Linked DNA regions of Homo sapiens. The protein of the gene in region 1 interacts with the protein of each later gene in a pairwise test. Each region holds a gene or a part of one and is shown in the gene's direction. Other genes may lie near its edges. The genes, in order: FAM168B, ROR2, POM121 and NEDD9.

The links.
Region 2: the proteins of FAM168B (region 1) and ROR2 interact in binary tests that used the Homo sapiens proteins (3 or more experiments, as listed by UniProt).
Region 3: the proteins of FAM168B (region 1) and POM121 interact in binary tests that used the Homo sapiens proteins (3 or more experiments, as listed by UniProt).
Region 4: the proteins of FAM168B (region 1) and NEDD9 interact in binary tests that used the Homo sapiens proteins (3 or more experiments, as listed by UniProt).

Annotation. Positions count from the first base shown.
Region 1 is NC_000002.12:131,069,457-131,076,482, reverse strand, and holds part of FAM168B (myelin-associated neurite-outgrowth inhibitor), read left to right. Parts: intron 1-113; exon of another isoform or gene 114-4,461; intron 4,462-4,544; coding exon 4,545-4,628; intron 4,629-7,026. UniProt on the Homo sapiens protein: Inhibitor of neuronal axonal outgrowth. Acts as a negative regulator of CDC42 and STAT3 and a positive regulator of STMN2. Positive regulator of CDC27.
Region 2 is NC_000009.12:91,730,227-91,737,252, reverse strand, and holds part of ROR2 (tyrosine-protein kinase transmembrane receptor ROR2 isoform 1 precursor), read left to right. Parts: intron 1-3,816; coding exon 3,817-4,131; intron 4,132-6,097; coding exon 6,098-6,343; intron 6,344-7,026. UniProt on the Homo sapiens protein: Tyrosine-protein kinase receptor which may be involved in the early formation of the chondrocytes. It seems to be required for cartilage and growth plate development. Phosphorylates YWHAB, leading to induction of osteogenesis and bone formation.
Region 3 is NC_000007.14:72,928,095-72,935,120, forward strand, and holds part of POM121 (nuclear envelope pore membrane protein POM 121), read left to right. Parts: intron 1-290; coding exon 291-371; intron 372-1,845; coding exon 1,846-2,017; intron 2,018-7,026. UniProt on the Homo sapiens protein: Essential component of the nuclear pore complex (NPC). The repeat-containing domain may be involved in anchoring components of the pore complex to the pore membrane. When overexpressed in cells induces the formation of cytoplasmic annulate lamellae (AL).
Region 4 is NC_000006.12:11,222,643-11,229,668, reverse strand, and holds part of NEDD9 (enhancer of filamentation 1), read left to right. Parts: intron 1-7,026. UniProt on the Homo sapiens protein: Scaffolding protein which plays a central coordinating role for tyrosine-kinase-based signaling related to cell adhesion. As a focal adhesion protein, plays a role in embryonic fibroblast migration.

The DNA of each region.
Region 1 (7,026 bases):
AGAGATGGGGTTTCATCGTGGTCTCAATCTCCTGACCTCGTGATCCACCTGCCTCGGCCTCCCAAAGTGCTGGGATTACAGGCGTGAGCCACTGCGCCCGGCCAAGGTGATCAGTCTTGTAGAAATGATTCAGGTTTGGGATCGCTCTGGTGCCTTGATGTAGGGAGTCTGGCCTTTCCAGCCTACCATGCCAGAAGAGGGCTAGAATAGATGCTGAAGGAGACGGTCTCTGTGTCTGCTGGGGGTTGGGGTACCCAGAAAGATCAGGAATAGGAAGAAACAGTGATTCTTAACTCCATTGCTTGGAACCCTGCAGATTCACTGTCTGGAGAGAATGAGAAAAAAGAGGCTGGTGCACCCGAGACCAGCTAAAGCAGTGTTGGGGGTCCTCCCAAAGCTGCCCCTGTGGGTTTTGTGCAGTCCAGGTAGAAACCATTGGAGATAGTGAGGGGAGCCACGCTGCGGCTTGGGTCAGAGTGGTGACAGAGCAAGTGGGATGTGGCTGATGGGATGAGGCGATGGGAGCACGGAAGCAGCAGAGGCTGTCTAGGAGATTGGGAGTCTTTGATCCCCATACCAGAGACCAGGTATGTAGTGCATCTTGTTGCTGGTGGCTAGTGATGCCATCTTAAATACTATCGTGTGTGTTTGCTGTTTCATTATAGGATGTGTTAACTTCTTGTTAGAAACTGGGGGGCCGGGCGCGGTGGCTCGTGCCTGTAATCCCAGCACTTTGGGAGGCCGGGGTGGGCGGATCACGAGGTATGTAGATCGAGACCATCCTGGCTAACATGGTGAAACCCTGTCTCTACTAAAAATACAAAAAATTAGCCGGGCACGGGCCCCTGTAGTCCTAGCCACTCAGGAGGCTGAGGTAGGAGAATGGCGTGAACCCAGGAGGCGGAGCTTGCAGTAAGCCGAGATCACGCCACTGCATTCCAGCCTGGGCGACAGAGCAAGACTCCGTCTCAAAAAAAAAAAAAGAAAGAAAGTGGGGATGGGAAGGACTAAGCAAAGAAGACAGTAGTTTTTCAGGGACCGTTAAACACAATCTTCAGCAAACAAATCCAGAGCAGCCCTCTTCCCATGAGAATATATTGGTAGAGTTTTAGGGAGAGATGAGGAATTTGGAATTTCTGGAAATTATTGCAGAGGCCTACAGGATATGATCTAGGTCAGTGGTAGTTGAAACTTTTTTTTTTTTTTTAAAAGAAGGAAACCATTGGAAAAAAAAATCTTGCTGGTTCCCTGGTCTCTGAGGGCAGTTCCAGACCTTTCTTGGTCTTCCTGTGCTCACAATTGGGCTTCTGAGGAGTCTCTCAGCATCCCCAGAACTGCTGTCCTGGTCTTTCCAGTGGCCATTGTGGGTCTCTTTGAAGTTGAATCTGCCCTTGACGTCCACCACACTCTGTTCTCTGACTAATTAGAGAGGGCAAACGGGAGGGTGAGAGTCCAGGAGGGAAACCCGGAATGGCTTCTGCTGAGGTAGAGGGGGATCAGTTTGAAGTGAGGAAAGCAACTTTGAAGCAAGGATAAAGATGAGAACTGGGCACTTGGAGGGATTCTGGGGCTAGGGCTTGGTGACACTGATGCCTCCTGTTCCCACAGAAACCTGCAAGATGGCTTAGGGATGCAGGGCAATAGAGCAAGGGATCCAGGCTGAGGGGGCCGAAGGGAGGCACGTGAGGAGCTGTATTCAGAACTTTCTGTCCCACCTACAAAGATTTTCCTTTTGGCATTCCACTCAGATCCCCCCTGTTTTTACCTCAACCTTAGGGCTTCCTTGCTTTGGTTACTGTTAGCACCATGATTTGTTCCTAAGGGATCGTAACACCTTAAAAATCCCAGTCCAAGTGCTGTAAGAGACACCTTTCTCCAGGCCTCCTCAACACAGTTTCTTTTGAAGACTGCTCTTCTCTTTCAACTTTATTTACAGGTGAAGGAAGTGTGCAGTAGAGAAGTTACAGCTTCTCACAGCTAGTGGGAACAGTAATCAAGGCTAGGAAACCTGAGTCATCTTGTTGGCTGTGTGCCCCAAATAGAAAGAACGCTTTCTGGCCAGGTGCAGTGGCTCACACCTGTAATCCCAGCACTTTGGGAGGCCGAGGAGGGCGGATTATGAGGTCAGGAGATGGAGACCATCCTGGCCAACATGGTGAAACCCCGTCTCTACTAAAAATACAAACATTAGCTGGACATGGTGGCGTGTGCCCGAAATCCCAGCTACTTGGGAGGATGAGGCAGGAGAATCGCTTGAACCAGGGAGGTAGAGGTTGCAGTGAGCCGAGATCACGCCATTGCACTCCAGCCTGGCAACAGAGCGAGACTCTGTCTCAAAAAAAAAGAGAGAATACTTTCTAATACCTCAGCTGTCACAAGTGATGCCTCCTGTACTGTGAGCCAGAGGGGTCAGCCCAAAGGGAAGGGAGGCCTTATCGAAAAGGGCAGATGCCTGAGGCCCCCTCTGTTGGTTGCACCTTGGGGCCAGGATTCTGACTGTAGCACTCAATGTCTTATTTGATGTTTCTGTTTCGTTCATATTATGAATTACTAGGTCATGGTTTAGTCTTAATAAGATTCCTCATTTGTATTAATAAAGGTCAGCTTATTTGCACGTGGACTGTAGTTGGATTTTTCCCATTTCTGTGTGTATGCATTCCCAGTTAGAGCTCCTTCTGTAAGAAGACTGAAGCTTAAGTAAGACACAGCCTGGGTTTATGACTGGTGTCTTAATTTGTTTTCTGCTGCTTTAGCAGAATATCAAGCTGGATAATGAACAGAAATTTATTAGGCTCTTGGTTCTGGAGGTTAGGGAAGTCCAAGAGCATGGCGATGGCATCTCGTGAGGGCTTTTGGGCTCTATCCTCTTGTGATGGATGGTGGAAGGGCAGCGAGTGCGTCAGAGAGAAAGGGGGCTGAACTTGTCCTTTTTATCAGGAACCCACTTTCATAATAAAGCCGTCACCTATTAAATGTCCCACCTCTCAGTGCTGTTAAAATGACAAATTTTAACGTGAGCTTTGGAGAGGACATATGAAAACATATTAGCTGGTCATGCTGGAGAAGTTGGGGATCAGAACATCAAAATATGGCAAGGCGTGGTAACTCATGCCGGTAATACCCGCACTTTGGGAGGCCGAGGCAGGTGGATCACCTGAGGTCAGGAGTTCGAGACCAGCCTGGCCAGCATGGCAAAACCCCATCTCTACTAAAAATACAAAAATTAGCTGGGCGTGGTGGTGCACGCCTGTAGTCCCAGCTACTAGGGAGACTGAGGCAGGAGAAATGCTTGAACCCAGGAGGCGGAGGTTGCAGTGAGCCGAGATCTCACCACTGCACTCCAGCGTAGGCAACAGAGCAAGACTCTGTCTTAGAAAAAAAAAAGAACATCAGAATGTGAAAAAACCTGAAATGAATTTAGAAGTTTAAAACAGTTTCTTACAACAAAAAATAATAGCTTTTAAGTCAAAATATGTAATGTAGGAAATGTCGGAATTCAGTGAAAATGAGTGACCTTTACATAGGCTTAGCTGTTCACTGGTAGCAGCAAAAATAGGCCCTTGAGTCCAAGCTAGACTTGAATTCTGATTCTTCCAGACTTTGTGCAGTGAAGTCAGATGAGGGTAACAGGACCTAGCGTGTGATACCCTTAGCACTCTTACTACTCTTGCTAAGTAATTATGTGATTAGAGTTTGGAATGAAACTTCCAGAAATGTTATAATTGAGGCTTGGCGCGGTGGCTTATGCCTGTAATCCCAGCACTTCGGGAGGCTGAGGTGGGTGGATCATGAGGTCAGGAGTTCGAGACCAGCCTGGTCACCATGGTGAAACCTTGTCTCTACTAAAAATACAAAAATTAGCTGGGCGTGGTGGTAGATGCCTGTAATCCCAGCTACTCGGAAGGCTGAGGCAGGAGAATCGCTTGAAACGGAGGTTGCAGTGAGCCGAGGTCGCGCCACTGCACTCTAGCCTGGGCAACAAGAGTGAAACTCTGTCCCCCTCCAAAAAATAAATAAAAATAAAATATATAATTGTTACCTATCAAAATTCTGAGGGAAAGCCAGGCGTGGTGGCTCACACCTATAATCCCAGCACTTTGGGAGGCCGAGGCGGGTGGATCAACTGAAATCAGGAGTTCAAGACCAGCCTGGCTAACGTGATGAAACCCCGTCTCTACTAAAAATAGAAAAATTAGCCAGGTGTGGTGACACACACCTGTAATCCCAGCTCTTCGGAAGGCTGAGGCAGGAGAATCGCTTGAACCTGGGAGGCAGAGGTTGCAGTGAGCCAAGATCATGCCATTGCACTCCAGCCTGGGCGATGAAAGTGAAACTCTGTCTCAAAAGACGACAACGATAAAAAAAACAAAGTTCTGCGGGAAGAAGACAACTAGAGACATGCTGTTGGCCACACATAGTGCTCTTGGGGCTGCTTAAGTCTGTGGAGTTCTGGGGAAGAAGGTAAGAGCGATGGCTTTGCAGGAGCTCTAGTGATTGTCGCTACTTCAGTTGATGACATGAGATTGTTCTTTATTTTTCTTCAGCTGGTTTTCCCATGGGCTATGCAGCAGCAGCTCCTGCCTATTCTCCTAACATGTATCCTGGAGCGAATCCTACCTTCCAAACAGGTATGTGCTGGGTGGTAAAATGCTTTGTACGTACAGCTGGGAGAGAAAGGTGAAGGGGTGGATTTTGAGAGGGGTGGGTATAGAATTAGGACTTGGTTGAGTCGATTTCTCAAGTTCATTAAGTTAGCCTGTTGATAAGTGCAACAAAAGCTTAATTCTTACTGCACTGAAGCTTTATATACTGTGTTTCTCATGTCCTCCCACAAGGCAAATCTGTAATCACTAGGTTGTTAACTCTGCCAGAGCATCTGTTCATGAAATAGTATCACCTACTAGAAATTGAAGAATTTCTTGCCATGCCAACAGGTGGAATTTCCATGTTAATGTTTTTAGAGATAATTTTTGGTTAGACTACTTTAGCACTCTGATAATATTTTTTAAAAAAGTATTATTTTCCATGTAATGTATAGATGAATATTTTTAGATTTTGGAAATCACTGTTAATATTAAAAGTGGAATTGGTTTGGGTCTGAATCTTGAGGAGATTGGTTATTTAGTGGGATTTCCTGCTAGGAGCCTGCACTCTCTGGTGTTGGTTCCTTTTGGACTTTTTTCACCCACACGGGGCTTTGCCTTTCTGCCGCAGCAGTGGTGGTGCACACTCTGATCTGAGGCTGTGGTTTGGCCTTAATCCTGGGACTGCTGGGGCAACTTTATCCCTCAACAGTAGCTTCACACAGTTAACTTTGACAGAGGAGGAGACAACAGCAGTGTCCTTTCCCCAGATTCTTCCTGTTTTGTTAATCATAAAATTCTGCCTTTATATTCTGTCCTTACATCCATCTCTTCGTTTCCATTTCCACTTCCACTATGACCCTATATGACCACCCTTGTTCAGACCGTAGTTCACACCCTGAGAAAAACGTTCTTGACTTGGTCTTCCTGCTCCCAAGCTTTCTTTCCCCGGGTTAGTGTTCTTCCCATTTAAACCAGAGCGATGCTCCCAGATGAATTTTTCTCAGTGGTTTCCCATGACTGTGAGACACAGTTATGCCTAGAGTCTCGACTTTCAGTCCCTAGCTGTTTGCCATATTGGCCCATTTTTTCCCTTTAGAGTGGTTTTCCTTTTGTGTTTTGCCTTGAAAGAACCATCCATCTCGTAGTGTATATTAGCAGTTCATTCCTTTTTATTGTTAGGTAGTATTTTGTTGTATGGAAATAAATACTTCAGTTTGCTTATCCATTTACCATGTGATGAACATTTGGGTTATTTGCAATTTTGGGCTATTACAAATGAAAATGCTATTAATATTTATATGCAGGTTATTGTGTGAACATACACTTTGATTTCTCTTGAGTAAATAAATACAGAGGATTTGAGTGGCTGGTTATTATGGCAAGTGTATATTTAACTTTGTGAGAAACTGCCAAACTGTCTTCCAAAGTGGTGGTACCATTTTACATTCCTACCAGCAGTGTTTGTGAGTTGTCGTTCCTCCACATCCTTAACAACACTTGGTGTGGTCAGTCTTTTTAATTCTAGCCATTCTAGTGAATGTGTAGCAGTATCTTTTCATGTGCGTATTTGCCTTCTGTATGTCTTTGGTGAAGAATTTGCTTTTACTGTATGTCAGTTATTGTTTTCTTATCGTTGAGTTTTTGAGAGTTCTTATCAGATATATGCGTGTTTTCTCCCAGTCTGTGGCTTTTTCATTCTTTTAACAACGTCTTTTAAAGAGCAGGGGTTTTAAAAGTTTAGGCTGGGCGCGGTGGCTCACGTCTGTAATCCCAGCAATTTGGGAGGCTGAGGCGGGTGGATCATGAGGTCAGGAGTTCGAGACCAGCCTGGCCAACGTGGTGAAACCCCGTCTCTACTAAAAATACAAAAATTAGCTGGGCTTGGAGGCGCACTCCGGTAATCCCGGCTACTAGGGAGGCTGAGGCAGGAGAATCACTTGAACCCAGGAGACAGAGGTTGCAGTGAGCCGAGATCGTGCCATAGCATTCCAGCCTGGGCGACAGGGTGAGACTCCGTCTCAACCAAAAAAAAAAAAGTTTGATGAGGGTTAGTCGTTTTATGGATCATGCTTTTGGTACCATACTTAATAAACCTGTGTAACTTGGCTGGGCGCAGTGGCTCACGCCTGTCGTCCCAGCACTTTGGGAGGCCGGGGTGGGTGGATCATGAGGTCAGGAGATCGAGACCATCCTGGCTAACGCGGTGAAACCCCCTCTCTACTAAAAATACAAAAAATTAGCTGGTCATGGTGGCGGGCTCCTGTAGTCCCAGCTACTCCAGAGGCTGAGGCAGGAGAATGGCCAGAACCTGGAAGGCGGAGCTTGCAGTGAGCCGAGATTGCGCCACTGCACTCCAGCCTGAGCGACAGAGCAGGACTCCGTCCCCAAAAAAAAAAACAAAAGAGAAAGAAACCTGTGTAACCTAACTTCACAAAGATTT
Region 2 (7,026 bases), on another chromosome or scaffold:
AGATCTTTTTTAGAAGTAGTGGCAATTGCTAACATGATTTGCCCTAAAAATGTTCCTGGCCTGTATGTTTAAATTAGCAAGTGTGGGTTGCTTGGAATATACTTCTGCACTTTTAACTCAGCCAAACCGTGTGGGTCCAAAGCACTGTCCTCACTGCAACGCCAGGGCCTCCTGCCCCGGGCCTGCCACACTGGCGCAGATAGCCTCAGCGCCCCCACACTCACTCTGCTTGACTTCTCATTCTGTACTTCCTGACTCTTCTATCCTCTCTGAGCCACGTTTGGTCCAAAGGCACCCAGGCCTGATTGCAGCTGTTTTGGGGAAAGAGTCGCGGGTCATCAGTGGTAGGGATGCTGCAGTGAACACACACTTTGTCAGTCCTGGGTTTCCAGAGAACAAAGCCACGTCTTTGGGTACCTGGTTCAGGGTCTGAGAAAGTGGCAAGTCAATTAGGAACTGCAGCTGCTCATCCTTGGTCTCATTAGGACTTAACTTCTCTGATTGGCTGTCCCAGTTCCCAGCATACAACTCGAACACATTGATGGGGTCCGGGGTCCTTCTTAGGGGAAAGGCCTTGGAAAGGAAGAAAATTAATTAGACAATAGTCCTACAGAGCCCTCCTCCTGCTGTCTCTACTCTCTCCACAAACACATACACATTTTCTCTCCAGATCCCATAAGGAGCAAGACACATCCTGTGCAGATGGCCGGTGCCCCAGCACCTCAGTTTAGTTGGATCCTCTCCATGGGAGCGGGAGGCTCTGCTGCAGATTAGAGTCAGTGGGTGATCTCTGATGCCTGCGCTCCTGGGAGAGTGTGGTGGGGCAAAGGGGATACAGGGCACTGACCTGTTAAGGGGTGACAATGAGGATCCAAGGCAGAAAGTCACCTCATGTCACTGACAAGCCCTTCTAAGTTCAGGTCACCCTCGGACTAGAGAGTCGAACATCACATTCACGGTCACAGAAGAGACTGCCTGGCCCATGTGCTGGTACAGAGACCTCTGAGGACAGGGCCAGGGGGTCCTGTGCAAACTGAAAGAGCCATCATGAGACAGAGAGGAACCTGGAGATGCCATCCTGTTCCAGCGGGAGATGGTTTTGAAAATATGGCTACCTCTCACTGCAAAAGCTTTCTTTGCCATTAAAGTAGGACTTCTCAAAGGTTTTTACCGAAACACACAGTGGAAAATAGAGAATATACTTTACGCCATGACTTAGTGTACACATACATGTATTTCACACAACTGACATAGGTTACAGGGAATAACTTTCACCCTTCGTAAAAGCGGTGCACTTGGATTTTTCTTTTCAGTTTTATTTCATTAAATAAAAAAGTGGCCGGGCACGGTGGCTCACGCCTGTAATCCTAGCACTTTCGGAGGCTGAGGCGGGCAAATCACGAGGTCAGGAGTTCAAGACCAGCCTGACCAACATGGTGAAACCCCATCTCTACTAAAAACACAAAAAATTAGCTGGGCATGGTGGCGGGTGCCTGTAATCCCAGCTACTTGGGAGGCTGAGGCAGAAGAATCACTTAAACCCGAGAGGTGGAAGTTGCAGATCGCGCCACTGCACTCCAGCCCCAGAGACAGAGCAAGACTCTGTCTCAAAAAAAAAAAAAAAAAAAAAAAAAAAAAAAAAAAAAGTTAGAGCCCTTAGTAGGAACCGTGCATTCTGACATCCTCTAGTCTGTTCTTACCATCTTTTAAAATGCTAGCTGCAGACTCTCAGAATTAATTAGACACCCTACTAATTGGCAAGCACTGATCCAGGGCACAAGATTGTCCCTCAGTTATCTCTTCAGGAGTTGTTTAAGGAATCAGCTTGCATCCAAGCAGCCTGGTTTTATAGCATCTTTTAGAGAAGAGTTTAGAATGAAGATTTTCTAGGTGGGTGGCTTTTTGAAAACAGTAAATTTGAAGTTGCTCTCAACAGACTTGTGGTTTTGAAATAAGCATAGTAATGACTGCGTTGTGTGCAGTGTTGTGTTGGAAAGTGTTGTGTGACATTCAGGGTGTGGACAGATAACAGGATGTGAGTTGTTGGATCTCTTTGTGCCTAGAATTGCACTTTCAGAAATAAGCAGTACATTCTCAGGGTGAGGAGAAGGAGAAAGAGAAATCCTATAAAGATCAGCAGAGACATCCTATCAGTGGATTAGCCCAAGAGAAGTGACAGCTTTGGCATTCTTAGACAATCTTTCCCTGCCTGGAGGTCAAGGCCTACCTACATTTTTGACAGCCATCCATATAATCCCAAATCTGTAATGATGGGATTGAACAGGGTTGAAGCCTCAGTTCTTCCTCCAAATCCAAGACATCCTGTACTGTAACTGCTTGCCCTCTCTGTTCCTCCATTTAAATATCGGCCACAGGAACCCAGAGGAGGGGAGGTGATGTGATGAGCACAGTAGTGCCTGCACACAATCAGGACAGCGTGGCTGCTCCCGCCCACTGACGCCGCCTTTTACCAGACCCCTGGGCCCATTCACGCTGAGGGCCACTTTATAGGCTCTGTGTGCACTCTCATTCCCCAGTGTGGGGTCTCAAATCACTCTTCAGGTACAGAAACAGGCCCGGAAAGGCATGAGTGATACCACAAAGTGATCACGCACAAGGCTGTTCCCACACAGCTGCCCATCCCGTTCCTGGGTGGGTTCCCAGGGAATGACTGACAGCGGCACTGCCACCTGCTGGCCAAACCTGGCACAGCACTTACACGCTTTCCTTGCCTGGAGGTCAAGGCCAGCATTCTTGACAGCCCTCTGTATAATCACCAAATAATCGCCAAATCTGTAATGATGGGATTGAACTGCATTCGTGGGTGGAGTTAGGGCTCCTCAGGGACTAAATGCCAGCTTCTGGGTTTTCTGCCACGCTGGAGGACACAGCCTCTGCTGGGTGTGCAGGCAAAGGGGCCTGTCTGCCTCCACTGTCCCCAAGCTCAATTGTTGTAAGCCAGCCTTTCACAGGTGAAAATGGGGTAGTGAGCCCAGGGCAGGCTGATGCATTCCTTAGAGCCCTGCCTTGGCCAGCTTCTTCACCCTTACCAGTGTCCAGCCATGCACCCCAGGTGCAGCAGATCTCTCCCCAACACCCCCACTTTGTTCCCGAACTCACCCCATCTTCTAACCACCAAACTGCATCCTCTGACATCTTGCCCTTAAAAAACAAACCGCCCTACCAAAGGGGGCTCTGGATCTTCGGGTTTTTCTGCTCCCCCTTATCACAGAACCTTCCAGAGTTGTAACGCGGCTCTCCTCCCACTTTGCTGCTCTCACCCTCTTGGCTTTCCGCATTTTACCAACTGTCTCCTCCAGCTGCAGTTCACAGAGCTGAGCTGACTCCCTCTTCCGGGACAGCCTTCTCCCCAGACAGATCTGGGACATTGGGAAGCCTGGGGCTCGGTACTGCACTTCTTGGCCTGCGCTCTCCACACATGGCGGGTCCTTAGGATCTGCTTTTGCATCTGAAGTCTGAACCCTCTTGTCCTGGAAGAAGCACCTAGCGGAGTGAGCTAGGGGGCCGAGTTTTCCTTCTTTCTTGTTCTGCTTCTGATGTTTCTAAGTGAGGCCCTGGGACCAGGGACTTTTCTGTGACTGCTGCAAATCAGAGCAGGTGATGGGCAGGCTGGCCTGCTGGTGGGGAGCCTCTCCAGGGTGGTGTGCGGGGCTCGGGGTTGGGGAGTCTGGGGCGGGGCGGGGCATCAGGGGGCTGAGTGGGCAGTCTGGGATGCCAGGCTGGGGGTGGGGACTGGATGAATGTCAAGGGCGCAAGGTGGGTCCCCCGCTAACGCGAGTCTCGCGGGCTCTGCAGCGGCCTTCACCATGATCGGCACGTCTACGCACCTGTCGGACCAGTGCTCACAGTTCGCCATCCCATCCTTCTGCCACTTCGTGTTTCCTCTGTGCGACGCGCGCTCCCGGACACCCAAGCCGCGTGAGCTGTGCCGCGACGAGTGCGAGGTGCTGGAGAGCGACCTGTGCCGCCAGGAGTACACCATCGCCCGCTCCAACCCGCTCATCCTCATGCGGCTTCAGCTGCCCAAGTGTGAGGCGCTGCCCATGCCTGAGAGCCCCGACGCTGCCAACTGCATGCGCATTGGCATCCCAGCCGAGAGGCTGGGCCGCTGTGAGTGCCCGAGGGCCCGGGGCGGGACCGGGGGGCGCAGGGAGTGTAGGGCCCTTGAAATGTGTATGGGGGTGTCGGTGAAGCCCAGGGAGCCCCATCTGTCCAGGCCCCACAGAACCCCCTTAGCAGCCGAGGGCCCCACAGCCTAGGCCTCCATTCCAGCAGGGCAGCAGGCGGGGCCTCGGATCAGGGGCTTTGGAGCCATTCAGCCCCAGGCTCGCATGTGGGCTTGCACTGTGTCCAGCTGTGGGACTCAGGTGAAGTCCCTCCACCTGCTTGAGCCTGGGATTTCCCTTCTCTGAAATGGGAGTGATCTCACTTCCTGTGGAAATGGCTGTTGCGGGCATGAGAGGAGACAGGGCCAGCTTCCTAACTTGCCCGACGGTCAGCACGCACTCGGGCCGCCAGGCGAAAATGCAGACTCTCAACTCCTGCCCCAACCTCCTGAAACCTGGAGGATCAGTCCCCAGAAACCTGTAGGATCCTTAGCCTTGGATGAATGTGAGGCCCACGGAGATGCTGCAGGACTGGCCTGGGAGGGCACCTGAGAAGAACCTGTAACAATCAGGCATCACTAGGGAAGGAAATACAGGGAAGCACCGTGCACCTTTCTACAGGTCCCTGAATCGTGGGGCCTAAGGGATGAGCGTGGGGGAGGGGGACAGTTCTGAGCCCGGGGCCTGGGTGTGGCCTGTTTGGGGTCTGCACAGGACGAAGAGCATGCTCCCCACTGCCCCTCTTGCTGGCAGCAGCCCCTGCCCTCTGGAGGCTTAGTAAACCCCAAGTTGTGAGCCCCAGCAGGGTGGCCATGGCCAGTCAGGATGGCAGACACAGGACAGGGAGCGCTGCTTATGTCTCCGAGGAAAACCATTGGCTGACATCACTGCATCCATACGGGTTGTTGCCTCCCTGAGGAGTGAGACCTAGGGAACGGGCCACCTCCGCCACAGCTCCGGGGCTGTATTTAGCATCGTTGGCTAATCTGGGGGTCCAGGAATGGCCAGGACTCCTTACCAGGACCAGCCAGGGCCTGGTCCTTGGGCCCGTTGCCTGCATTCAGACCCTCATTGTGACCCTGGACAAGTTGCTAAGCTCTCATATCCTTATATTCCGTGGGGATGACACCAGTACTAACCCGTGGGGCTGAAATGAAGGTCAAATGAGGCAATATTTAGGAAGGTGGTTTTTTTGTTTGTTTTGTTTTTTTGAGACAGAGTCTCACTCTGTCACTGAGGCTGGAGTGCAGTGGCATAATCTTGGCTCACTGCAACCTCCACCTCTCAGGTTCGAGCGATTCCCCTGCCTCAGCCTCCTGAGTAGCTGGGACTACAGGCGTGCGTTACCACATCTGGCTAATTTTTGTATTTTTAGCAGGGACGGAGTTTCACCATGTTGGCCAGGCTGGTCTTGAACTCCTGACCTCAAGTGATCCACCCGCCTTGTTAGCCACGGTGCCCCAGCCAGGAGGGTTTAGAGCAGCGCCCCACACATGGTAAACACTACAGAAATGTTCACCAAATGCACACCCCAACCCCAGGGTTCCTCCATGGAGGTGGCGTGGCCTGCACTGTTCTCACCCATGGCTGAGCAGGGTGTCCTGAGATGGAGGGGCCAGGCCCTTCTTGCTTGCACAGTTGGCTTTCTTCCTAGAGCAAGTTGATCCTGAGGCTGGGGAGACATCCCCATTCTGGTGGGGTGGTGGTGTGCAGGTGCCTCGTGGGTCCCAAGAGATGGTTCTGGGGCTGTGGAATAACTTTAGACAAGTTTCCTTCCCCATGCCTATCCCTGATGTGCCCTGCATTTAATTTGTGGGCTTGGGACTTCATTAAGCCATTACTTTTAATGCCTCTTTTCTGGTAAGTTATGTAAAATCCTTGGATCTTTTGGAAATTCTAGTTTGGGCATGTGTAGGCAGAATGGTTTTGTTGTACCCCGGAGGTTTTCCTAACGTGTTTTCCTTGTTCAGACCATCAGTGCTATAACGGCTCAGGCATGGATTACAGAGGAACGGCAAGCACCACCAAGTCAGGCCACCAGTGCCAGCCGTGGGCCCTGCAGCACCCCCACAGCCACCACCTGTCCAGCACAGACTTCCCTGAGCTTGGAGGGGGGCACGCCTACTGCCGGAACCCCGGAGGCCAGATGGAGGGCCCCTGGTGCTTTACGCAGAATAAAAACGTACGCATGGAACTGTGTGACGTACCCTCGTGTAGTATGTATTCTCTCTCTCTTTTTTTAATGTGTTGATTGTTGAGTGAACCTTGTGATGAGGGCGTTCTGTCCTGACCTGGGTTGGGGTGTGCCTCTGTACGGTGGCGACCAGAGACCCCTGATCTTACCACAGTGACCATTTTAAATAAAGCTGTTGGGCCACGCGTAGTGGCTGATGCCTATAATCCCAGCACTTTGGGAGGCCGAGGTGGGCAGATCACTTGAGGTCAGGAGTTCAAGACCAGCCTGGTCAACATGGTGAAACCCCATAAAAATACAAAAATTAGCCAGGTGCGGTGGCACATGCCTGTAATCCCAGCTACTCAAGAGACTGAGGCAGGAGAATCACTTGAGCCTGGGAAGCGGAGGTTGCAGTGAGCCAAGATTGTGACACTGCACTCCAGCATGGACAGCAGAGTGAGACCCTGTCTCAAAAATAAATAAATAAATAACGCAAGTTATTGGTTGTTATGAAAGTAACATCTGACCATTACAAGACATTTTAAAATATAGAAAAGTCTGAAGAGTAATGTCAGATCACCCCTAATGTTACCACCCAGTAGTGACTTGTTTGCGTTTTGGCCCACCCCCTTCCATCAGCCCTTTTCCCATGTATGGATGGTCCTGGGATATTCACTTTGACATTTTGTTTCTCCATTAACATTATCTCCCAGTGCGGTGGCT
Region 3 (7,026 bases), on another chromosome or scaffold:
ACTCTGGAGGCTGAGGCAGGAGAATCGCTTGAACCCAGGAGGCAGAGGTTTGTTGCAGTGAGCCAAGATCGTGCTATTGCACTCCAGCCTGGGCAACAAGAGCGAAACTCTGTCTGAAAAAAAAAAAATTTACCTTTCAGAAGCTTAGGGATTTTAAACAACCATTTTCTGGTCTATCATGGAATCTGTGCTCCATAGAGATAGTATAAGGTCCCAGAAATATGAGAATACACTTTAAAGGGACAAAAAAAGTCATGTCATTTCATTGAGACTTTTTTGATTTGTCGCAGGCGCCATGATAGCAGTGGCAGTGGACATTCAGCATTTGAGCCCCTGGTGGCCAATGGAGTCCCCGCTTCTTTTGTGCCTAAGTAAGTGGGAGTCCATCCGGATGAAATACCAACTGTTTGGAAAAAGGCCTGATCAGAGCTGTTGCCCTATAGATTTTCCTCTTTGTTTTTTGCATTGCTTAATTGGTTCAGGTTCACGTCTTTGAAATTAGGAACGTTTTGAGTAACTTGCCACAGTTAACTGCCTTCTGTCTAATTCCTTTTAATGTTCTTGCATTAATATGGATGAAATATGCTGAGACTTAAGAGGTTTTATAAATATATTTAATAACCAAGCACATACACAGAAGGATTGCAAAGTTTGTGCAGTGGATAAAACAGTATGAAACCTAAATGTTAAATTTCTACATGTCAGTTTAAAAACAAATTGGAGGAAGAATTGGGTGGAAAGGAAAGTGGCTCAAAAGTATGTGTGGAAAGACTTAGGATACCTTAGGTACCTCATCTGAGTCAGCAGTGTGATGTGGCCGCCAGGAAAGCTAAAGTGCTCCTGGTCTGTGCTGTTAGAAGAAAGACTAGAATGAGGCAGGTGGATGGTATTCCTGCCTTCCGTAGTTCTGCTCACTGTCCGTGGAGCACTGTGGTCAGATCAGTGTACTGCACTGCGAGGGAGGATGTACACAAACGGAAATTCATTCCCAGTGAAGCAATGAAGATGTTAAGGAGATTTGCAACAGCCCAAAGGGGTGGTGGTGGATGTTGGGGTTTTGGAGGTATGGAAGTATTAGCCCAGAGGAGAAAAGTCTCAGGGGGAATAAAGAAATAAGTGAGGGAAGGACAATGGTCTCCAAAAAACCAAAGGACTGTCCCTTGAAAGAAGCAAAATAACTTGCTCTGTTTGACTTCAAATAGGATCCGTGGGTGAAAGAGGAAATACACTGTAATCCACTGTAAGAATAAACTGGTTCATGGTTGACGTGGGTCACTCTAGGAGAGAGTTGTCTATATTGTAACAGGTTGGATGACTGTCCTACAGAAAAGATGCGTAGGAGATTTCTGTTTCCATTGGAGGTTTAGTAAAATGATGGGTTCCTCTTAACTCTGATTTTTTTTTAATAGCTTTGTTGAGATATAATTGACATAAAATAGACCGTACTTGTTTAAAGCATGTGACATTTTGACACACATACACCTGTGGAACCATCCCACCACTAAGATAATGAACATCCTTCACCTCCAAAAGTTCCCACATGCCTGTAATCCCTCTCTTTACTTCCACCCCTGTTCCCAGGCATCCACTGATCTGTCTTCTGTCACTGTAGATAGGTATGCATTTTCCAGAATATTCTATAAATGGAAATCATACATTTAAGTTTTAAATATTTGGCTTTTCTTACTGACTTTGTCAGATAGATTTGGCCAGATTGTTAGCAGTAAAAATTAAAAGCATTATTCTCTTCCCTTCATGTTATTAAGAAAGATGTCATGACCGTGGATGAAATCGTAAAAGAATTTTGCCTTCAATAAAGCATCTAACTGTCTTCTCTTTTATTAGGCCTGGGTCTCTGAAGAGAGGCCTCAATTCTCAGAGCTCAGATGACCACTTGAATAAGAGATCCCGAAGCTCTTCCATGAGCTCCTTGACAGGCGCTTACGCAAGTGGCATCCCTAGCTCCAGCCGCAATGCCATTACCAGTTCCTACAGCTCCACTCGAGGCATCTCACAGGTACAAGTACAGCTCTTTTAATGTGGGGGACATGAATTCCCAGCGTTCATTCATTGACTAGGGCCAGACATGGTAGCTTAGCCATGTAATCCCAGCACTTTGGAAGGCCAAAGCGGGAGGATTGCTTGAGCCCAGGAGTTCAAAACCAGCCTGGGCAATATAGTGAAACCTTGTCTGTACAAAAGAATTTTTAAAGAAAATTTTTTAAATAAAGTAATTGATTAGCAAAGGTTTACTGATCACCTTCTATCTGTCAGACATTAGAATTGTCTTTAAGCTAATAGAAAATACAGATCATTGAGTGATCAATATAGGCCAGCGGAATGGAGTAGAAAGCCCAGAATGTACAGCAGTGCATGTGTGCGAGCTGATTCGAGACAGAGCTGTGTTGTAGATAAACGGACAGAGGGTGATTCGAAAGGTAGACTGAGTCCAGCTTGTATTGGGTCGTAAAAGAGATTTATCTTATAGGCGTTTAGAATTGAAAGCGGGGTTTTTAAACAAGTGGTCATGATTTTTTGGAAAAGGGATTATCGCATAGTATAGGGAACAGGGCAGGCTTTGCTGCTGGACAGACTTAGATTCAAATCTTGGCTCTGAGGCTGGGCGGGATGGCTCATGCCTGTAATCCCATCACTTTGGGAGGTCAAGGTGGGAGAACCTCTTGAGTCCAGGAGTTCAAGACTAGCCTGTGCAACAGAGCAAGACTGTGTCTCAAAGAAAAGGAAAAAAATGCTTGGCTCTGACATCTAGTAGCTATAAGGTCTTGGGCAGACAATCACATAACATCTCTTTTTCTTATCTCTGAAGTGCTGTTGCAGTGATTGAGGGTAATATTTAAAAAGCACCTATTACAGTGGCTGTCAGTAAGTGGGTACCCAGTATACAGCAGCCAGACAAAAAGATGTAAAGCATGTATGGAGAAATGTTTTTGAGAGGAGGAAGATTTTGAGACGAGTTCATCAGCCCAGAAGGCTCTGACAGTCATATAAATGAACATTAATGACCGTAATATCATTATCCCTCTTAATAATTTAAGAGGGATAATTAATATTATTTAATATCTAGTTATTATTTTTGATATGCAAACTTTTCCAGCTTTGGACTATGGGTTCCAAACTGGCTCCTGTATCCTTTATTTTGATCCCAGCAGTCTTCGACAGATAGCTTCATTGCTTTTTGCCCACCTTCCCAAAGTCCATTTTTAGCCTATACCGAAGTTGGGTGTTTCTTCAGAAAGCTTTGGTTTCTTCCAGTTAGAACTGTAGAGACTACAGTCTAAGTTTTAGGAGAGATAAGATAGACAGATCCTCTAGAAAGGGGAATATAAATAATTCATAATATTCCAAATTCAAATTTATGATAGTAGGATTTTTTATGTAATTTATTTGATTTTATATTTTTATGTATTACACCAAAAATGTCGGTTTATAATTACTTTGATCCTAGTAACACGCAATTTCTTTTTTTTTTTTTTTGCCGGAGTCTTACTCTTGTCGCCCAGGCTGGAGCACAGTGGTGCGACCTTGACTCACTGCAATCTCCGCTTCCTGAGTTCAAGCGATTCTCCTGCCTCAGCCTCCCAAGTAGTTGAGACTATAGGTGCCCGCCACCATGCCCAGCTAATTTTTGTATTTTTAGTAGAGACGAGATTTCACCATGTTGGCCAGGCTGGCATCGAACTCGTGACCTCAGGTGATCCACCCACCTTGGCCTCCCAAAGTGCTGGGATTACAGGCATGAGCCACCACGCCTGGCCCATGCAATTTCAAAATAGCGGTATCAGTGTCATTGTTAACACTGTCATTATTAAGACGGCTGAAGTCAGTTTAAGAATTGTGATTCATTTGTCTTTATATCCCTGTGTGAATGCTACGGACATGTAATCAATATATCGTGTTTTAAAGTAATGTTAATTGTCCTTTGGGTACACCAACTTTATATACAGTGAGGTTCGTTTGTTCAGTATGTTTGAAAGTTACAGGGATTTCTGTGTTTTCCTTTTTGAAATAGTTCTGTTTTAAATTATGTAAAATCTTTGAAACAATAAGTTGTTTCAAAAAAAATACACTAAAACAAGATACACTCAAAAATTCAGTTTCCATCCCTTTCCACTCTACATTTTTCCTTCCTCTCCATTTTTATTTTTTGATTATCCTTTATTGTTTTTTAAACGGTATGCATATCAGTGTATCTGAAAACCGCCACCTTCTAACATTTAAGGTAGTAGACAGTATATACAGATTTGAACCTTGCTTTTTCACATAATAGATAGTTGAGGTCATTCCATAGCAGTACACAGAAACTCATCTTTGGTCTTAAAACTGCATAGGTACTTTAGTCCTCTGTTGACAAATGTTGGGTTGTTTCAGTCTTCTGCTATCACAAATAATGCTGCAAAGAATACATTTGTTCATATGTCATTTCATCCTTGGCAATTTTGCCTCTGGAAAGTTCCTAGAAGTCAGATTCCCAGGTCAAAGGTTAAATGCGCATGTAATTTTGCTGGATATTGTTAAATCCCCCTACAGAGCATGCACCACTCAGCATTCCCCTCAGCGTTGTATGAGAGGGACCATTTCTCCATGGCCTCACCAGCAGATTTGGTTATTGTAGCTCTGGGCTTTTACCAATTTCACAGGTTAAAAATAGTATCTAAGACAGGCGTGGCAGCTCATGCCTGTAATCCCAGCACTTTGAGAGGCCGAGGAAGGCAGATCACTGGAGGTCAGGAGTTCGAGATCATCCTAGCCAACATGGTGAAATCCTGTCTCTACTAAAAACATAAAAATTAGCTGGGCATGGTGGCACATGCCTGTAATCCCAGCTACTCAGGAGGCTGAGGAAGGAGAATATCAGGAACCTGGGAGGCAGGGGTTGCAGTGAGCAGAGATAGCGCCACTCCACTCCAGCCTGGGCGACAGAGTGAGACTCTGTCTCAAAAAAAAAAAAAAAGCCAGCCGAGCTTGGTGGCTTACACCTGTAATCCCAGCACTTTGGGAGGCTGAGGCAGGTGGATCACCTGAAATCCGGAGTTTGAGACCAGCCTGGCCAACGTGGCAAAAACCGGTTGCTACTAAAAATACAAAAAATTTAGCCAGGCGTGGTCGTGTGTGCCTGTAATCCCAGTTACTTGGGAGGCTGAGGCAGGAGAACTGCTTGACCCTGAAAGGCAGAGGTCAAGTGAGCCGAGCTCACGCCACTGCCCTCCAGCCTGGACGACAGAGTGAGATTCTGTCTCAAAGAAAAAAAGGTATCTAATTTTTGTCTCTTATGAGTAGTTTGATCATCTGTTCATATGTTGAATGATTATTTTCAGTTCTGTTTCCATGAGTCTTAGTTCATATCCTTTACCCATTTTTCTGAAGGGCTACCAGCCAAATCTCATGTTCAAGAGTTTTTCCTATAGTAGAGAAACCTATTCCAAATGAAGCAAAGTTTTGAACGTAAAATAGAAACCATAGAAGTGCAGTGTTAGAAGAAACAGGCTCCTCACGCGTTGCTGGTGGGAGTGTCAGTTGGTACAGCTCTCTAGAGGGCTTTGTGACAGGAATTGTCCACATAAGAGATACATGCACCCTTTGATCAAGCAGCTTTACCTTTAGGAAGTTATCCTACACACATACTGGGAAATGGATACAAGGATTTAATGTAACATTGTTTTAATAATAGCAGCTTGGAAACAATGTACATGTTATCTTTTCAGGGAGCTGACTGAATAACTTACAGTATTGGTGTAAGTTGGAATATACTATGTAACTATGAAAAAGAATAAGGCAACTGAAGAAGTACTCATGAGAATGATCTCAAAAAGCAATTACATAAAAACAAGGCTCAGAACTGTATAGTATCCTCTATTATTCGGGCTTTTAAAAATCTTTTAATATGCATAAAATAATTCTTACAGGATATATTAAAAACTGGCAATCATTACTGAGATAAAAAGGAAATTTACTTTTTACTGTACAGTCTTTTTTTTTTTCTTTCTTTTGAGACAGAGTCTCGCACTGTCGCCCGGGCTGGAGTGCAGTGCTGTGACCTTGGCTCACTGCAACCTCCACCTCCTGGGTTCAAGCAATTCCCCAGTCTCAGCCTCCCAAGTAGCTGGGATTACAGGCACCCACCACCATGCCCGGCTAATTTTTGTATTTTTAGTAGAGATGGGTTTTCACCATGTTGGCTAGGATGGTCTCGAACTCGTGACCTCAGGTGATCCGTCCGCCTTGGCCTCCCGAAGTGCTGGGATTACAGGCGTGAGCCACCACACCTGGCCCCAAGTTGTTGTCTTTTTCTTAGAGATTTGAATACGCTCTTTATATGTTCTAGATACAAGCTGTCTGTCATGTATGTGTTGCAACAAAAAAGTGTCCTGCTCTTGCCATTCTACTTCCTTGTGGTTAGCATACTTTGTGTAGTATTCAGGAAATCTTTGCCTACCTAACCTAAGGTCATGATAATTTTCTTCTGTGCTACCTTCTAGAAGCTTTATTATTTTATTATTACTTTTATATGTAAATCCATAAACCACCTGAAATTAATTTTTGTATATGGTGTGAGGTTGGAATCAAAATTAGTTTTTTTTGTGTTTGGTGGTGTTGGTGGTTTTTGTTGTTGTTGTTGTTGTTTTTTACTGTAGAAATACCCATTTCTCTTAGCAACATTTATTGAAAGGACCATCCTTATTTCTCTGCAGCACCGTCTTTGTCTAATTTAAGTGTCTGTATATATGTGGGTCCATTTCTAGACTCTGTTTTGTTCCATTGGTCTATTTTTCTACCTACCCTTGTGCCAGTCTTTGTTTTACCCCTAGCCTTATACTTTAAGTCTTGATAGAGTCAGTCATCCCACTTTCTCATTTCTCTTCAGGACTGTCTTGTATCTTGGCCTTTTGCATTTTCATATAATTTTTAGATCAACTTGTCAATTTCCACAAAAAAAAAAAAAAGTTCTGAGATACTGATTGGGATTGCCTTTCATCTACTGATTACTTTGGATGGAATTAACATTGT
Region 4 (7,026 bases), on another chromosome or scaffold:
TAGTAAATTACGGGGGCTTCATTTATTAAGAATTTTCTACAAAATCCCCTTCATATACAGAGCATGTTCTTAATTGGGCGGGGGCTGGCGGGGTTAGGTGATTGCCTCGATGGCCTTGGTTTGCTTACCCAGTGAAGGCTCCCTCCTGAGGGTCTGGAGGTGTATGGTTGTGCTGTTTCCCAGGAGGGTGATGGAAGGGTCTCTGCGCAGCTGTGTTTGAGCAGAAGCCCCCGAGACCCCACCCCGTTTGTGCCTGCCAGGCCCGAGGCCCCGCCCACCTCAGGCCCAGCCCGGGCGGGGGCTCAGCGGCCCCTTGGCCTGGCTGCTAATGGCTGAGCAGAGACGCTTTTGTGGCTTTGCCAAATTTCTGAGCCCTTACGTGCCTACATTAAAATTCTAAATTATTTATCTCGTCTACCATGCAACAAATTCATTCTTTAACGTTTTGACTGAAGAAAAATTACAGACGGAACTTACAATGCCATTAAGAAAGGTGCATTCTGAAAGTCAGAGTCCTGTGTTCTGGTTGAATGGGGTAGGTCAGGGAAAGGAGAACCTGTGTGCCGTGAAACGCTTTGGAAAGGACTTTGAAAGTATTCGTATTTCCTCAAGCAAGACCGAGGAAAATAATGACAGAGGATCTTTAATTTAGTCAATATGGTCATGCATAAGCTATTAAATTCCCAATTATTTCCTTGCTTTGATATTTTGGTTTAAAATGCTTTATTTTTCTCTGTATGATTTTTGCAACCAATCCAAATGTAGGACTCCTGTCCTTTTCCTTTTTAAACCTTGTATGAGATCTATGGATTTAAAATCACTAAAACATGCTTTGAAAAATATCAACTTGGTTATTTATGTATTTATGCATTTATTTATTTATTTAGTAAACCCATTTGCAGAGCTAAATGGCTTACCTACACAGAGATAAAAGCCTTTAGAGTACTGAAGGTGCCTGATAATACCAAATTTAGCAAGTTGTACAGTGCGTAACATGCCAAGGATTCCTTTAGCATCCTTTCCTTGCTGGGATACACGTCAGTCCCTGTTCTCAGAATTCAGTGGTTCCCTGTCTCTCCCTTCACTCCAGTCTTCTGAAAAAAACACCTTCCTCTCCACTTTTCTTTTTTTCTTTTTTTGAGATCAAGTCTCACTCTGTCGCCCAGGCTGGAGTGCAGTGGTGCCACCTCAGCTCACTGCGACCTCTGCCTCCTGGGTTCAAGTGATTCTCCTGTCTCGGCCTCCTGAGTAGCTGGGATTACAGGTGCCCACCACCATGCCTGGATAAGTTTTGTATTTTTAGTAGAGATGGGTTTCACTGTGTTGGTCAGGCTGGTCTCGAACTCTTGACCTCAGGTGATCCACCTGCCTCAGCCTCCCAAAGTGCTGGGATTACAGGTGTGAGCCACCGCACCCGGCCTTTTTGCAAATTCTCTCCCACTTTCGTGCTTTTATGACCTCATTGGTTCTCCTTTTATCTTCTTCTTCTTCTTTTCAGGCTTTCCTTACGCTTCTTTAATACTGACTTCCGTAGATCTTACTTCCAACCCCCTACTCCCCAGCCCCCCACCCGCACCTATCTACTGCCGCCCCCTTGCCTCCCACACACAGATGTGACACTTTTAATGCACATTCTGTAGCCCTCATTTTTCCTTCTCCTTAGACTCTGCTATGGGAAATCTTGGTCCCTCACTGCCCCCATTCATCTGCCTCTCTGTTTGCGTTTACATGACTTGAGTGGCCTGTCAGTCCCGCTAGTAAAGTCTCCTCATCCATCCACTCTGTTTAAACAATCAAACTCTGAAACCTGTGTCTCCTGGACCATCCTATAATCCCTAAAATAGGCTGTTATGCTTTTCACCTCTGCCCTACTCTGTTAGCACTACCTTACTTATTGACCTCTTTCAATCAAATCGTTATCTAAAGGATACCTGTAACTCAGATAGGTTGCCTACTGGGCCTGTTTAGTTTTAAGTAAACCCCACTGAATATGAGAGACCCACCCTCTATTTGTATGTAGAGGCAGATTGATCGAAAAGTCCTTGAATAAAAAACATGATCTAGGGTCTGTGAAGTTTTGAGGGGGCCAAGACTTGGTGTTTTATGCTCTTGTGTTAGAGACATGATAGAGCATGGGCTTTGAAGAAAGGCATTTCTGTTCCTTATGGCTTATAGCTCTGGACCTTAGGCAAGTTAAGCTCTCTAAGCCTCATTTTACAGCATTGTCTGTAAAATAGGGATAAGAATAACTGCCTCATACTATTCGAAGACCTGGGATAATATATGAATGAAGTACTTACTATGGCTCTTGGCATATAGTAAGCAGACAATGCAAGCTGGCTCCAGCTCTCTTTGTATGGTAGATGCTCAATAGATGTTGAAAGGATGGTATGTACTCAAGACTTGGTGACAGAATTATGTCAAAATCCCAGTTACTAGGTTGAGATGGTTGAATATTGTTGAGTATTCTGTGGGCCTGGATGTGTATTGTAAGCATAGGGCCCTAACAGCATATGACCCCACTTGCTAATATACTAATGACTTGATTCCTTCATTATTGTTCATTGGACTCAGTATTCCTGAAATTACAAGACTTTGCTCATAGAAGACAAAATGTATACACAAATAGCCATTTAAGAGGATCTTAATACTATATGGCATAGTAAAAAAACAACAACAACAACAAAAAACATGGGCTTTGTTTCAGATCCCACTTTTGTTACTTTCTAACAGTATAGTTTTATGCTAGCTACTTTAAACCTTCTTTTCCTCATTTATCAAATGAGAATAATACCTGTCTTGTCAGATAGTTATAGGATATAATATATGACAATTGTCCTTTCTAGCAGATATTAGGCATTTAATAAATGGCAGCTATTATATGATGTTATATACACATACCCACAAAGATATACAGATATATAGATATGGAATTTTTATATAGATAAAAGTGTTTAAAGGAGACATTCACTAGAATTGTTTACCCATAACAGAAATATCAGTGAGGAAGAGAAAGTCGTCAATTCAAAAAACCAAAGATAAAATCCAAAGAATGTAAGTTGGGAGTACATGAGAAGTTCAGGGTGAACTCTCTTATCCAATTGCAGTCAATTAGAATGACATAAATGTAAAGTAAGAGGTCTTGGTTGTCTATGTTTAGATCATTTTAGGGTCAGAAAGAAATCTGAACAAATTGGTTTGAAATGCCAACCACTAGGACCAAGGCAATACTCTGCAAGAACATATAGGCTGAATTACCAGGACTTCTCGCCAAGACAAATGAAACAGGGCCATTGGGAAGAAATACTATATTTCTAACTTAAAATGCCAGAGAGTAACTGACGGTTTCCTAGGTGATAGATGGTTGCAAAGAGTACGGGCATGAAAAGGGGACACACACACACAAAAAAAAACCCTGTTTATACTTTGCCAACAACACCCCCCTCCATCTTATTTACTTTGAACATTCCAGCCATCTCTCTGCAGTAATTCCTGCTGGCTAATGAGGATTCCACACAGCTAGGGAACATGACAGCCTGCAAAGGATTATTTTCCTGAACAATCTGCATTTTAAGATAAGTCACCTTGTTGGTAACCTTTTGTACCCTTCATTGGAAAGGGTGACTCTCTTTGAAGACAGTTTGACCAAACAATGAGATCTAGGTGAATTTGAGGAAGATAGAACGGGCACTCCAGAAATATGGATAGTGGTGGAGCTGACAGCAGTTTTTCATGGTTGACGTAGGGAGTGGAGGCAGCTGTCATGGAGATATTAAAGTTGCCAGTGGAATGTTTTCCAATACATATTCCTGGGCCCCACAATGGACTATTAAATCCCAGTTATTCTTTAAAAAAAAAAAAAAAAAAAGGCCGGGCGCGGTGGCTCACACCTGTAATCCCAGCACTTTGGGAGGCCGAGGCAGGCGGATCACGAGGTCAGGAGATCCAGACCATCATGGCTAACACGGTGAAACCCCGTCTCTACTAAAAATACAAAAAATTAGCTGGGCATGGTGGTGGTCACCTGTAATCCCAGCTACTTGGGAGGCTAAGGCAGGAGAATGGCTTGAACCCGGGAGGCGGAGCTTGCAGTGAGCCGAGATTGCACCACTGCACTCCAGCCTGGGCGACAGAGTGAGACTGTCTCAAAAACAAAACAAACAAACAAATAAACAAACAAACAAAACAGCTAGTCTCTTTCTCCCTAATCCCCTCACTAACCACTACTAGTGCTTCTGGTGCTTACACGGTGTCTAAGTAGGTAGTTCATGATCCTTATTCAAAGGCTGGATCCAGTGATTTGTAAGTGTCATGTTTCTTTGCAAATCTCAGTCTTGCGAATTAGAATTCCCCCTGATATGTCTAACATATCAAGGTAATAGTTATATGATGTTACTAAAAATGTCCCTCACATGAAATGTTATGTTTATGCCCACAGGAAACAAAGATTTAGCAACAAATATGTAAAAGTGAAACCATTTCAAGCAACAAAAATATTTGATAGCCCTTTTGAAATTAATTTGAATTCCTTTTTTTACTGTGTGTATGTGTGGTTGGGGGGCAGGGGGGCGGTGGATGGATTAATTATCTGTGAAACCCAGTAGAAAGTTGCAGTAACCAAAACACGTGTAAAGTTCAGATTTGAACCAGATCTCCTGTCTACTTCTTAAGGCATTGTGCATTTAGATAGTATATGTCATTCATGTTTTTCCTAGGTTTTATTGGTCAGGCAGAAACACTGTGCTATCTCTTGGTAACTATGAGTTAGCCTTAATCTCAGTGATTCATGACAGTCCACTTGTTTTCCTTAATTTAATGCCTCACTCCCACAGGAGATGAGGCTAACTGAGGACTCATCTAGAGGACTCTTTAAGAATGAGCTGGGCTTTTCTGCCCCCCAACACCCTCCGCCTCCCAAAATAACCATAACAGGCAAAGCCAGCACACAGAAAATGGCAGTAAGTGGACTTCTAGACACTCCAGCTACTTCTGAGTCTTCAGTGTCAGGACACATCAGTCATCTGTCGATGAGATTTTTTTTTTCTTTTCCTTTTGTTCTTTCGTTCTTGTTACTAGTCACTGTGGCATGACTGAGAGTTTGGCAGGAAATGGGTTCGTGGACCTGTGGTACAGTCGCACTACCACAGCAGCATTGGCCTAGCAAAATGTTGAGCCCTCTTTCCCTTGCATGCTCCCCTGGGGCAGAAGTCCAGTGCTATCTCCGCTTCCCTGACCCTCTCCACTCAGAGCCCAGCATGACAAGCACACCTTTAAATGGGTTCAAGGAAGGGAATAGCAGAAATGAACGCAGCCCGACAGCCTCCTTTCTCTTGATAACCCCTGTCACTGTGGAGCTGGACTTCTAGGCTATCTCACAGAGGCCCAGAGGCACTGGAATCGATCTCATTTCCTTACAGACATCACCTTGTCAATTAGAGAACACATAACGTTGATTGAATTTAAGATTCTTATCAGTGCCTAGCTCTTTTTCTCCCAAATCCGAAATTCAGCCATGGCAGATCCATAATCAAGAAATATACTTACATTCCCATCCTTTGTTGTTGGTTTCAAAAATATTTCTTTTTTGTGAGTATGTATCCATGTTTTACAAACCAAAAAAATGGGACATATGGTCTGACAAAGGGAAGGATATTTGAACCTGGGGACTGCCTGGGAGAGTCCGGAAGCACATGGTCACTCTAGAGACTGTCATCAAGGGCTGCTCCTGAGATTAATCCACTGTCGAAGGCATTATCCCATCTCCCTTACAGCAGCCTTTTGCAGGAAACTGTCTAAGATGTTGTGCTTTTTTTTTCATTGACTTGTAAATAACAAGGTGCTCTCTTTCCTTTTCTTTGCAGAAATAGGCATCTTTAGAAATAAAGCCATGCCCATTTTGAAATAAGAACTTGTTTGGAACACCTGAGAGTGTTAAGCAGTGCGGGGGATTTGCATCCAATTGTTCTTGCTTTAAACCTGGCATGGGCGCTCTCGCCTCATAGCCCGCAGCACCTGAATCAAGCCTCCTGCCTCCCTTATTAAGATCTTAATTACAGACTCAGCTTAGTTCATTGCTGAAGGGAAAGAATTTCATTTCTCTGAAGTGTGTCTGTTTTTTGGTGTGGCAGGTGTAATCATGATAAGATCATTTCTGGGTTTTTTGTTTTGTTGGTTTTTTTTTCCTAGAGGAAGTTTTTTTTTCCAAGGGGAGGAGTACAGTTCTTAAGACACAATTTCATGAGCTCATCTTGGCGCAGTAATAATAACTGTGCTTTGATTTTATAGAGACTCTTTTTCCTGAAGAAATCAGAGCATTTGGAGTAAATAATCTCATGATTCCTCATATTTTTATAAAGAAGAACATGTCTATTAATATTTATTTTGCAGACAGGGAAACAGAGGCACAAAAGGCAGAGATTTGATGGTCATTAGTCTTCAAATGTGAAGTCTGAAGCTAGACCCTCCTAATTCAGTCTGGTGTCCATTCCTCTATCCAGGGTTTCTCAACCTTGGCACTATTGACACTTAGGGCCAGGTCATTCTTTGTGGTGGGGGCTGTCCTGTACACTGTAGGATGTTTAGCAACATCCCTGGCCACTCTACCCACTAGATGCCAGTAACACACGTGTGCATGCATGTGCACATGCACACACACACACAGTGACAACCAAAAAATGCCACTAAACATTGCCCGTACCCAGAGGGGACAAAAATCCTCCTAGTTGAGAAGCAGTGGTCTAATCTCTTCTACTCCTTCTCCTTAAAAATAACTGCCCTACTCAAAAATACCCCCATAGAACTGACTGCCATAATTTTATCATTACTGATATTGAGCTTAATGTAACAGGTCCTAACCAAAAAGCAACTTCCTCTTACAGGCCTAGCCCCAGTTTGTTTCAGTGAATACCACAAAATACTAAGAAGCGCAGAGTTTCATTCAAGTCAAATGTAAAACCCATCAAACCATCTCTAAGGCAACTTTAAAGTATTTCTCTGGCTTCTCTCTCTACAATATGTACCTCATCA